2 separate regions of the Homo sapiens genome follow, and region 2 is linked to region 1. Evidence: fine-mapped expression QTL. A gene starts in region 1. The other region holds a variant in brackets. All regions are shown on one strand. Distances are from middle to middle.

The links. PIP is the estimated chance that this variant, and not a neighbour inherited with it, causes the effect.
Region 2: its variant is the best candidate, but not a certain one, in a credible set for the expression of GSDMC in spleen (GTEx, PIP 0.87).

What each region holds. Positions count from the first base shown.
Region 1 is chr8:129,783,955-129,789,342 of GRCh38, forward strand. It overlaps GSDMC (gasdermin C), which reads right to left and starts at 2,670. Exons shown (of 14, transcript NM_031415.3): 1 at 2,057-2,670.
Region 2 is chr8:129,961,841-129,967,228 of GRCh38, forward strand. The region is part of intron 2 of CYRIB (CYFIP related Rac1 interactor B); the gene reads right to left. Among named protein-coding and RNA genes, the nearest start is that of MIR5194, 44 kb to the right of the region's middle. RefSeq lists a silencer at 809-1,009. The variant G/C (reference allele first, on the strand shown) is at 2,753.

The DNA.
Region 1 (5,388 bases):
CATTTTTTACCAAGGTGCCAAGAACATACATTAGAGAAAGGACAGTCTCTTCAATAAATGGTGCTGGGAAACCTGGATATTCATATGCAGGAGACTGAAACTAGACCACTCTCTCTCATCATGTACAAAAATAAAATCAAAATAGATTATAGACTTCAATGTAAAGCCTCAAACTGTGAAACTACTACAGGAAAACACTGGGGAAACTCTCCAGGACATTGGTCTAGGCAAAAATTTCTTAAGTAATACACCACCAGCACAGGCAACCAAAGCAAAAATAGACAAATTGGATCTCATCAAGTTACAAAGCTTCCCTCCAGCAAAGGAAAAGATCAACAACAGAAAAAGAGAACCCACAGAATGGGAGAAAATATTTGCAAACTTCCCATCTGATAAGGGAATAATAACCAGAAAATATAAGGAGCCCACACAACTCTATAGGAAAAAAATCTAATAATCAGATTAAAATATGGGCAAAAGAGTTGAATAAACATTTCTCAGAGGAATACATACAAATGAAAAAAAGGCATATGAAAAGGTCCTCAACATTATTAGTTATCAGAAAAATGTAAATCAAAACTACAATGAGATATCATCTCACCCCTGTTAAAATGGCTTATATCTAAAAGACAAGTAATAAAAAATGCTGGAGAGAAGGTAGAGAAAAGGGAAACTTGTACCCTGTTTGTGGGAATGTAAATTAGTACAGCCACTATGGAGAACAGTTTGGACCTTCCTCAAAAAGCTAAAAATAGAGCTGCCATACAACCCAGCAACCTCTCTGCTGGGTGTACACCCAAAAGAAAGAAAACCAGTATATTGAAGAGATATCTTCACTCCCATGTTTGTTGCAGCACTGTTCACAATAGCCAAGATTGGGAAGCAATGCAAGTGTCCATCAACAAATGAACAGGTAAACAAAATGTGGTACATATACATAACAGAGTACTACTCAGCCATAAAAAAGAATGAGATTGGCTGGGTGCGGTGGCTCATGCCTGTAATCCCAGCACTTTGGGAGGCTGAGGCGGGTGGATCAACTGAGGTCAGGAGTTCAAGACCAGCCTGACCAACATGGAGAAACCCCGCTCTACTAAAAATACAAAATTAGCCAGGCATGGTAGCGCATGACTGTAATCCCAGCTACTTGGGAGGCTGAGGCAGGAGAATCACTTGAACCCAGGAGGCGGAGGTTGCAGTGAGTCGAGATTGCACTGTTGCACTCCAGCCTGGGCAACAAGAGCAAAACTCCGTGTCAAAAAAAAATGAGATCCTGTCATTCGCAACAACATAGAGGGGACTAGAGGTCATTAAGTGAAATAAGCCAGGCACAGAAAGACAAACTTTACAATGTTCTCACTTATTTATGAAAGCTAAAAATTAAGACAATTGAAGTTATGGAGATAGAGTAAAATGATGGTTACCAGAGGCTGGGAAAGATATTAGGGGGTGGGAGGGAGGTGGGGATGGTAAATGAGCACAAAAAAAATAGTTAGACTGAATAAGATCTAGTATTTCTGAATAAGATCTAGTATTCGATAGCACAACAGGGTGACTATAGTCAATAATTGTACAGTTAGAAATAACTAAAACAGTATAATTGTATTGTTACAATTAAGAGTATAATTGTATTGTTACAATTATAACAAATAGGAATAGGACTTCCTAACTACATGGAATTCAGTTTTTGAACTTTCTAAATATGTTCAATAATGAAGAGAGACAGAATTTTCAACAGTTCATGTAAAATTCCTGATGTGACCATTTCAATTCTCTGATATGGGCCATGTAAGAGGTCACTGGACAAGCAGAGAATAATGAGAATATAAGATGCTTCTTTAAGACTGGACCTGTGCAATAATGTATCGAAGATATATTCCTTAGCCTTACATGCTATCAGGAATTCTCCATTATTAAGACGAACTTAACTTCCTTTTCAGTCAAATTCTGTAGGAAAAAAAACTCTTCGACTCATTTCACAAACCCATCCAGAACATTTTTGTCGCTGATGATAGTAATCTTTTCTTTTTCATCCCCTGATCCCATTAGGACTTACCAGATTATATATCCCTTTGTCCTGTAGAGAAATAGCAGGATTGGCCGGGCACGGTGGCTCACGTCTGTAATCCCAGCACTTTGGGAGGCTGAGGCCGGTGGATCACGAGGTCAGGAGTTCAAGATCAGCCAGGCCAAGATGGTGAAACCCTGTCTCTACTGAAAATACAAAAATTAGCCAGGAATGGTGGCAGGCACCTGTAATCCCAGCTACTTGGGAGGCTGAGGCAGAGAACTGCTTGAACCCGGGAGGCAGAGGTTGCAGTGAGCTGAGACCATGCCGCTGCACTCCAGCCTGGGCAACTCCGTCTCAAAAAAAAAAAAAAGAGAGAAAAATAGCACAATTGAGTAGGGCCCCTTCCAATCTTCAGACCTCCTGCGGTCAAGTAGAAATTGTCAGACAAACTCCAGGACCAGATCAATGTGATTCTGTTCACTGTTCTCTTCTCACCAATGGGTCCCTGACTCAATTTCCAATGCAGTATCCTGGAAAAATAAGCACAGGAGGGCCCTGTTCATTTCCAGAAGAGTAAGTCTGGAACTAGTTCTGGATCACAGAACCTTAGCTCTCAAGTCCTCAGCAAAAAGTCTGTGGAACAAAATCAAGTGGCATCTAATTATGTATCTCCTGAATCAGAATTAAAAAGGCTTCCTCAGAGTCACACCCATTTCCTTTCACATACAGAACTAGCTGAGCAAGTCTTTGATTCATGGATTCCCAGCAACTCTAGCTGGAACAACTTCTTTGGCTCGTATTCCTCTGGTATATGTGCTGAATTTAGAATTCAATCACTGGACACCAGGAAAGGCAACTTCAGCAGGAGGGACAGGCACTAGCGCCAGGGCCCTGGGAAGCACCTCTGAACTGCCTACATGTGGGGCTCTGTACAACAGGAATTACTGTGCTTAATGCCTCCTCTGTGTTAAGCACCATGCATGTATTATCTAAATCCAATCTTACAACAATCTTTATTTTAAATATAAATAAAAAGGGGATTTGTGAAAGGAATTAAAAACTTGCCTGAAACCCATGTCCTTTCCAATTACTCCCTATGGGTTTCAAGATGAAGTAAAGTGCCTATAGGAGCAGAAACTGTATAAACAGGATTGCTACACCTTTAAGTTTTGAGTAACTTCCTGGAACTGACACTCAATACAGCAACATTCCTTTCAGCTGACAGTATTTCACAATGCATTTACTTTACTTTTGTTTTCTTTTAATATTCATAAAAGTCTTATGCCTTCCCTTTCCACTGTAAGAACCTGATATGCACTTCACTTGGGACAAAGCTCAGACTGTGCTTTCTGCATATCACCACCAGACACGATGTTCCAAATTAACTTTCACGTTCTATAATTTCCATTGTAAAAACTATAGACTTGAAATATAAAATTATAATTACATACATAACCCTTCTGTGTACCAACATTCTATAGGCCCCAACCTGCTATTGGGTATTCCAGAAGTCGGAGAAAAGTAACTTAGCTGTTTGGGAACAGTTATGTGAGTCACACCAACCTAAATAACAGATAAAGAAAAGCTCTCTAAAAGACAGTGATATTTATTCAAGAATGAGCATTGCAATGGGAATATGCGTGCCATCACAAACTATGTGTGTATTCAGACAGGTAAGGGAAGAAAAAAGTTTTAAAAAGAAAAATAAGAAGGATTACACAATTGTTTTGAATCAATTCTTTGCTTACAAGGATCAGTAACAAAGGTGGCACCAGTCCAAGGTTAGACAGGCAGTTGGTGGACAGATGTCCTGGCAGAAGTATTTTTTGTTTAAGGTTGCAATAGCCTTTGTGCAAAGCTGTAGTTTTTAGTTTTGTTTTGTCTTTAATTTTTATGGGTACATAGATGTATATATTTATTTATGGGATATATGGGATATTTTAATACAGGCATACAATGTATAATAATCACACCAGGGTAAATGAGGTATCTATCATCTCAGATATTTATTTTTTGTGTTAAAATATTATACTCTTTTAGTTATTTTTAAATGTACAATTAAATTATTATTGACTATAGTCAATAATATATTGTGCTATCAGACATTAGATCTTATTCCTTCTAAATCTTTTTGTACTCATTAACCATTCCCCCTACCCCTGCACACCCACCCCACTACCCTTCCTAGCGTCTGGTAACCATCATTCTATTCTCTATCTCCGTAAGTTCAGTTGTTTTAATTTTTAGCTTTCACAAATAAGAGAGAACATGTAAAGTTTGTCTTTCTGTGCTTGGCTTATTTCACTTAACATAATGACCTCCAGTTCCATCTATGTTGTTGCAAATGACAGGATCTCATTCTTTTTATGGCTGAATAGTACTCCATTATGTATACGTACCATTTTTTTTATTCATTCATTTGTTGATGGACACTTGGATTGCTTCTAAATCTTGGCTATTGTGAGTGGAACTGCAATAAACATGGGAGTGCAGATATCTCTTCAATATATTGATTTCCTATTTTGGAGGTATATACTTAACAGTGGGTTTGCTGGATCATACGATAGTTCTATTTTCAGTTTTTCTGAGGAAGGCCCAAACTGTTCTCCATAGTAGTTGTACTAATTTACATTCCCACAAACAGTGTCCAAGGGTCCCCTTTTCTCCACATCCTCTCCAGCCTGTTATTGCCTGTCTTTTGGGTAAAATCCATTTTAACAGATGTGAGATGATATCTCATTGTAGTTTTGAATGGTGTTTCTCTGATGATCAATAATGTCGAGCACATTTTCATATGCGTGTTTGCCATTTGTATGTCGTCTTTCAAGAAATGTCTATTTAGAACTTTTGCCCATATTTTAATTAGTTTATTAGATTTTTTCCTGTATAATTGTTTGAGCTCCTTGTGTGTTCTGCTTACAAATCCTTTGTCAGATGCTTAGTTTGCAAATATTTTCTCCCATTCTTTGGGTTTTCTTCTTCTGTTGTTGATTGTTCTTTGCTGGAAGGAAGCTTTTTACTTTGATATGGTTGCATTTGTCCATTTTTGTTTTGGCTGCCTGTGCTTGTGGGGTATTACTCAAGAAATGTTTGCCCATTCCAATGTCCTGGAGAGTTTCCCCAATGTTTTATTGTAGTAGTTTCATAATTTGAGTCCTTAGATTCAATTATTTAATCTATTTTAATTTAGTTCTTGTATATAGTGAGAGATAAGGGTCTAGTTTCAGTCTTCTACGTGTGGATATCTAGTTTTTGCAACACCATTTATTGAAGAGACTGTCTTTTCCCCAATGTATAGTCTTGGCACCTTTGTAAAAAATGAGTTCACTGTAGGTGTATGGATTTGTTTCTGGGTTCTCTATTCTTTTTTCATTGGT
Region 2 (5,388 bases), 180 kb after region 1:
CAGACCTAGACTGAATTCTGGCCTTGTCAGAGCCCAGGCCTATGACCTCGGGCAAGTTCCTAAACTCTCTGAGCTAGTTTCTTTAACAAACACAATTATCAAGATTAAATAAAAATTTTTTAATTGCGGCCAGATGCAGTGGCTTGTGCCTGTAATCTCAGCACTTTGGGAGGCCGAGGTGGGAGGATGGCTTGAGCCCAAGAGTTCAAGACCAGCCTGAGCAACATGGGAGACCCCTTCTCTAAACATACAAAAAATTAGCCACGCATGGTGCTGCTTGCCTGTGGTCCCAGCTACTCGGGGAGGCTGAGGTGGATCACCTGAGCCTGGGAAGTCAAGGCTGCAGTGAGCCATGATTGCGCCACTGCACTCCAGCCTGGGCAACAGAGTGAAACCCTGTTTAAAAAAAAAGAAAGAAAGAAAGAACAAAAGAAAGAAGGACAGAAAAAGAAAAAAAATTAGCTAGGTGTGATGTGTGCCTGTAGTCCCAGATACTCAGGAGGGAGGCAGGATGATTGCTTGAGCCTGGGAGACTGAGGCTGCAGTAAGCTAGAATCATACCACTGCACACCAACCTGGGCCACAGAGCAAGGCCTTGTCTCAAAAAAATGAAATAACATAAATTAAAATAAAAATAAACGTGGGGTGATGTCAATTAAAGTGTCTAGCCCAGCATCTATGGCATAAAATAGGGACCCAGAAAATGTCCCTTCCCTATGAATGCCCTTTACGTTTGGAAACAGCTATCATATGTCTCCCCTGTCTCCTATTTCTTGTTAAATATTTCAGCTAATTTAATGGTATCCTTAAATGACTTGATTTCAGAGCCCTCTTCTATCCCTCCCCTCTGCAAAGTCTCCATCTGTTAAAACCCCACTCGGGGTATTGCATAACCAGCTCGCAGAATCAGCAGCACGCTCCTGTTTGCTCATTCATCTGTTAATTCATTCACTGAGTAAACACTGATTAAAAACCTACTATATTGGACATCCTTGGCTTTTGCCTACCCACCATTCACAAACGGTACCCGCATTTCCCTGGAAACCTGCAATCTTTCCCTCATTCTCAGTCTCTGTACCTGAGCAGGTGCAAGCTGCACCCAATCTCCCTCAGGGGGAGGGCATTTGATCCAAGATGGCCAATCAGAGCGTCGCATTTGCCTGCCACAGCGATTGGTTCAGGGCTGTGCATGTTACCCAGAAAAGACCAATCAGAAAGACAGTTGGACTCAGTTCTAAGACTTGTTGAACTACTGGAACAGTGGCCTTTTTTTACCTCCTGCTAGAACCGCTGACAACCATTTTGGACCACAATCCACAAGAAAAGGGAGGCAGCGTTAAAGATGGTGAAAAACTGTGTAAGCCTTGGCAACACTTTAAGCCTTGGATCCTCCAGGCCTTATGTTTCACTCCTAGATTCTTCAATTACATAAACCAACAAATCCCCTTTCTGCGGAAGCCAGTTCGAGGCGAGATTCTGTTTCAAGGTCGACAGAATCCTGACTAATGAAATCCGAAGTGCTGTGGTGTATGCTGCATGCTGGCTATACACAGATGAAGCAAGGTGATCCATACCATCCTTCCAGGCACTCACAGGCTGATGTGGAGACAGCCACAAACAATTACAGCTATTTAAAGCCAATAAGATAACTGCTTTAATTAAATACTACACAGTGCAATATGAGCACAGCAAAGCACCTGGGTCCAGGAAGGCCTCACAGAGCAATGGCGATTAAACCTATTCCCTCTCTCTATTCAGGCAGTGAAGATGGAATTACTAGTTGGAGGAGTCAGATAACACTGTTGATTCACATTCATCTTACAGTAAACTAAAACCATTACATCCCACGTTGCACAGAAGGGCGATGATACTTAAAGCTCTTAACAGCTCTCTCTGAGCCTACAAAATACTGTCTCAAGAGACCAGCAAAGTGCTAAGGTCAAATAACTCTCACTTGCAAGTGTTTCATCTGAATTGTGCAGATAATGGAACGCTCTTAAATACTACCCAGGTCAGTTTTTGTGATTTTGATTCCATACGCTTAAATTTTCATTCCATCCTTCTTGACCATTTGGATTTCTTGTCCATTTGTGTGCTGATCACATCACAACAGCATCAAAACAGCCCTTTCAAGATGAATAACCTACTTACTGAATTTATTTCCAGATGATCAAGGGAAGGGGAAGAGAGAAAGTCTCTGGTTCTATAAAACATTTCCTGATGGGTTAGAAATGTGGCTGATTGCAGAAAACAACAATAACAACAATAAAAAGCACCTCTGGGAACATCTGTTTTGAGAAGAAAGGCCCCTAAAGGTCAGTCTTTTTAAGTGAACAGAAGCTGGTGTCTCTTAGTCCTTTGATGATGCATACTCAACGGGAAAGTTGTAAAGATAAAATAATTCAGGAAACGAGGACATCGCAGGACAAATTCTCCTTGCCTTTATTGTTTCTAAACACATCAGCAATTCATGTGGTCCAGAAACACAAGCTACAGCTTTCCAGAACAAAGAATCTTACAGTTGGAAAAATTAGTACTGACTGAATACTTCCATGTGGACTCAAGAGAGGTGCCAGGGACTAGTGTCAGGAGAGACGAAGTTAAGATGCCTCTCAGATAACTCAGATTTCTATGAAGCAGCTGGGTTACCCGTTTCCAAAACACCTTGCAGGCCGTCATGGAATTTCCCTTCCTCTACCTGCATGCCACAGGACTTTGCACAACAAAGGTACCATCCATTTTCTTGAAAATG[G/C]GATTATCGGGCCAAGCACAGTGGCTCACACCTGTAATCCCAGCACTTTGGGAGGCCAAGTCAGGAGGATCACTTGAGCCCAGGAGTTCAAGACCAGCCTGGGCAAGATAGGGAGGCCCCTGTCTCTACAAAATGAAAAAAGTGAGCCAGGCGTGGTGGCACATGCCTGTAGTCCCAGCTACTCAGGAGGCTGAGCCTGGGAGGTCGAGGCTGCAGTGAGCCGTGATCGTGCCACTGCACTTCAGCCTGGGTAGTCAAGCAAAAGTCTGCCTCCAAAGAAATAAAGAAAAAGGAAAAGAAAATGAGATTTGTCATTTATCACACATTTACTGGGCAGCTCTGTAGTCCAGGTATCAGCAGGCAATGGAGAGAACTCCAGTGTTATGGATGTGTGAGGACACCTCCTCACATCCTTACCCGTGTGATCTGTCTTACCTGTGAGCAGATAACACAGGGAACTGCCTGTTGCTTGGCAAATGCTCAATAAATGTTGGTTTCCCATGGGGCATATGCAACCCCACCAAGGGGACCTGCCAAATCTCCTCTATAAACATTCAAAGAAACATAAAAGGACACATAGCAGGATATCTTCCACCCACCCAAGACCCACAATCCCCTAAGCTTTTCCAAGAGATATACAGAATTCCCCCAGACACTGTGTGTGTGTGTGTGTGTGTGTGTGTGTGTCCTTCCAGCAATCGCCCAGGCATAATCAAGCATGAGTATGTGTGTGGGTGGGTGTGTATAAACACTTATACCCTCTTCTTGTTTTCCTACATCTGGCAGCATACCACATATACTTTCCTGCAAATTGCTTTATTCTTAAACTTAAGAATATATCCTGAAAATCATTCCTTCTTAGCAGATATGACCTACTATTTTAAACAATGGCGGAGCAATCCACTTTAAGAATATACATTCAGGCCGGGCGCGGTGGCTCACGCCTGTAATCCCAGCACTTTGGGAGGCCGAGGCGGGCGGATCACAAGGTCAGGAGATCGAGACCGTCCTGGCTAACACGGTGAAACCCTGTCTCTACTAAAAATACAAAAAATTAACCGGGCGTGGTGGTGGGTGCCTGTAGTCCCAGCTACTTGGGAGGCTGAGGCAGGAGAATGGCATGAACCCAGGAGGCAGAGCTTGCAGTGAGCTGAGATCGCGCCACTGCACTCCAGCCTGGGCGACAGAGCAAGACTCTGTCTCAAAAAAAAAAAAGAATATACATTCAATCAATTCGCTACTTTTTGTTTTTTGGAGTTTTGTTTGTTCATTTTTTGAGGCAGAGTCTTGCTCTTGTCACCGAGGCTGGAGTGCAGTGGTGCAGTCTCGGCTCACTGCAGCCTCCGCCTCCCAGATTCAAGCTATTCTCCTACGTCGGCTTCCCGAGTAACTGGGATTACATACAGGTGTGGGCCACAACACCCAGCTAATTTTTGTATTTTTTGGTAGAGACACAGTTTCTACCATGTTGGTCAGGCTGGTCTCAAACTCCTGGCCTCAAGTGATCTGCCTACCTCGGCTTCCAAAGTGCTGATTATAGGCATGAGCCAATGCGCCCAGCCTAAATCAATTCCTTATTGACATACATTAAGTTGCTTCCACAGTCTTTCTATTACTAGCAATGCTGCAATGAGTATATGTTACATGCATCTTCACACACATTTATAACTATAGGAAACATAGAATTTATAAGAGAAAATCCTTGAAGCAGAATTGCAGGATCAGAGGGTATGTGCACTCAGAATGGTGCCAAATGGCCCTCCAAAGAAGTTGTACTAATTTTCACTCTCATCAGTAGTAGAATGAGTATGCCTGTTTCTCCAACCACAGTCACAAAAGGTTGTTTTGTTTTTAAATACAAAAGAAGAAAGGCAGAGCTCACTCTTGTCCCATTGTCTCTTCTTGCCCCTGTGATATCATTAATGACATGACTACTTCTTAAAAATTCCACACCTGGATGCAAAACCCAGAGATCAAAGTTTAAAAAAGGCCAGGCGCAGTGGCTCATGCCTGTAATCCTAGCACTTTGGGAGGCCAAGGCAGGAGGATCACTTGAGTCCAGGAATTCAAGACCAGCCTCTATAAAAAATAAATTTTACTTTATTTTTAAATTTTTAATTAATTATTTTTAGATAGGGCCTCACTCCATGGCCCAGGCTGGAGTGCAGAGGACCAATTCTGGCTCACTGCCACCTGGGTTCAAACAATCCTCCCACCTCAGCCTCCCAGGTAGCTGGGAATACAGGTGCATACCACCACACCCAGCTAATTTATATTTTTTTTGTAGAAACAGGGTTTCGCCATGTTGCCCAGGCTGGTCTTAAACTCCTGAGCTCAAGTGATCCTCCCACCTTGGCTTCTCAAAATGCTGGGATTGCAGGCATAAGCCACCAAGCACAGACAAAAATAAATTTTTTTAAAAATTATCCATGAGTGTTTTTTAAAAAATTAGTGCAGTGGCCCATAATCACTTCACTGCACTCAAGCCTGGGCAACAGAGCGAGGCCCTACCTCAAAAATAAAAAAACAACAACAAACAGAGTTTAAAATAAAATGAATGCCAAAGGCAGTGGTGTTCTGAAGGTGGCTATACTGACTCAAGAGTCCTAACCATGTTCATTTCTTCCAAACTCCGT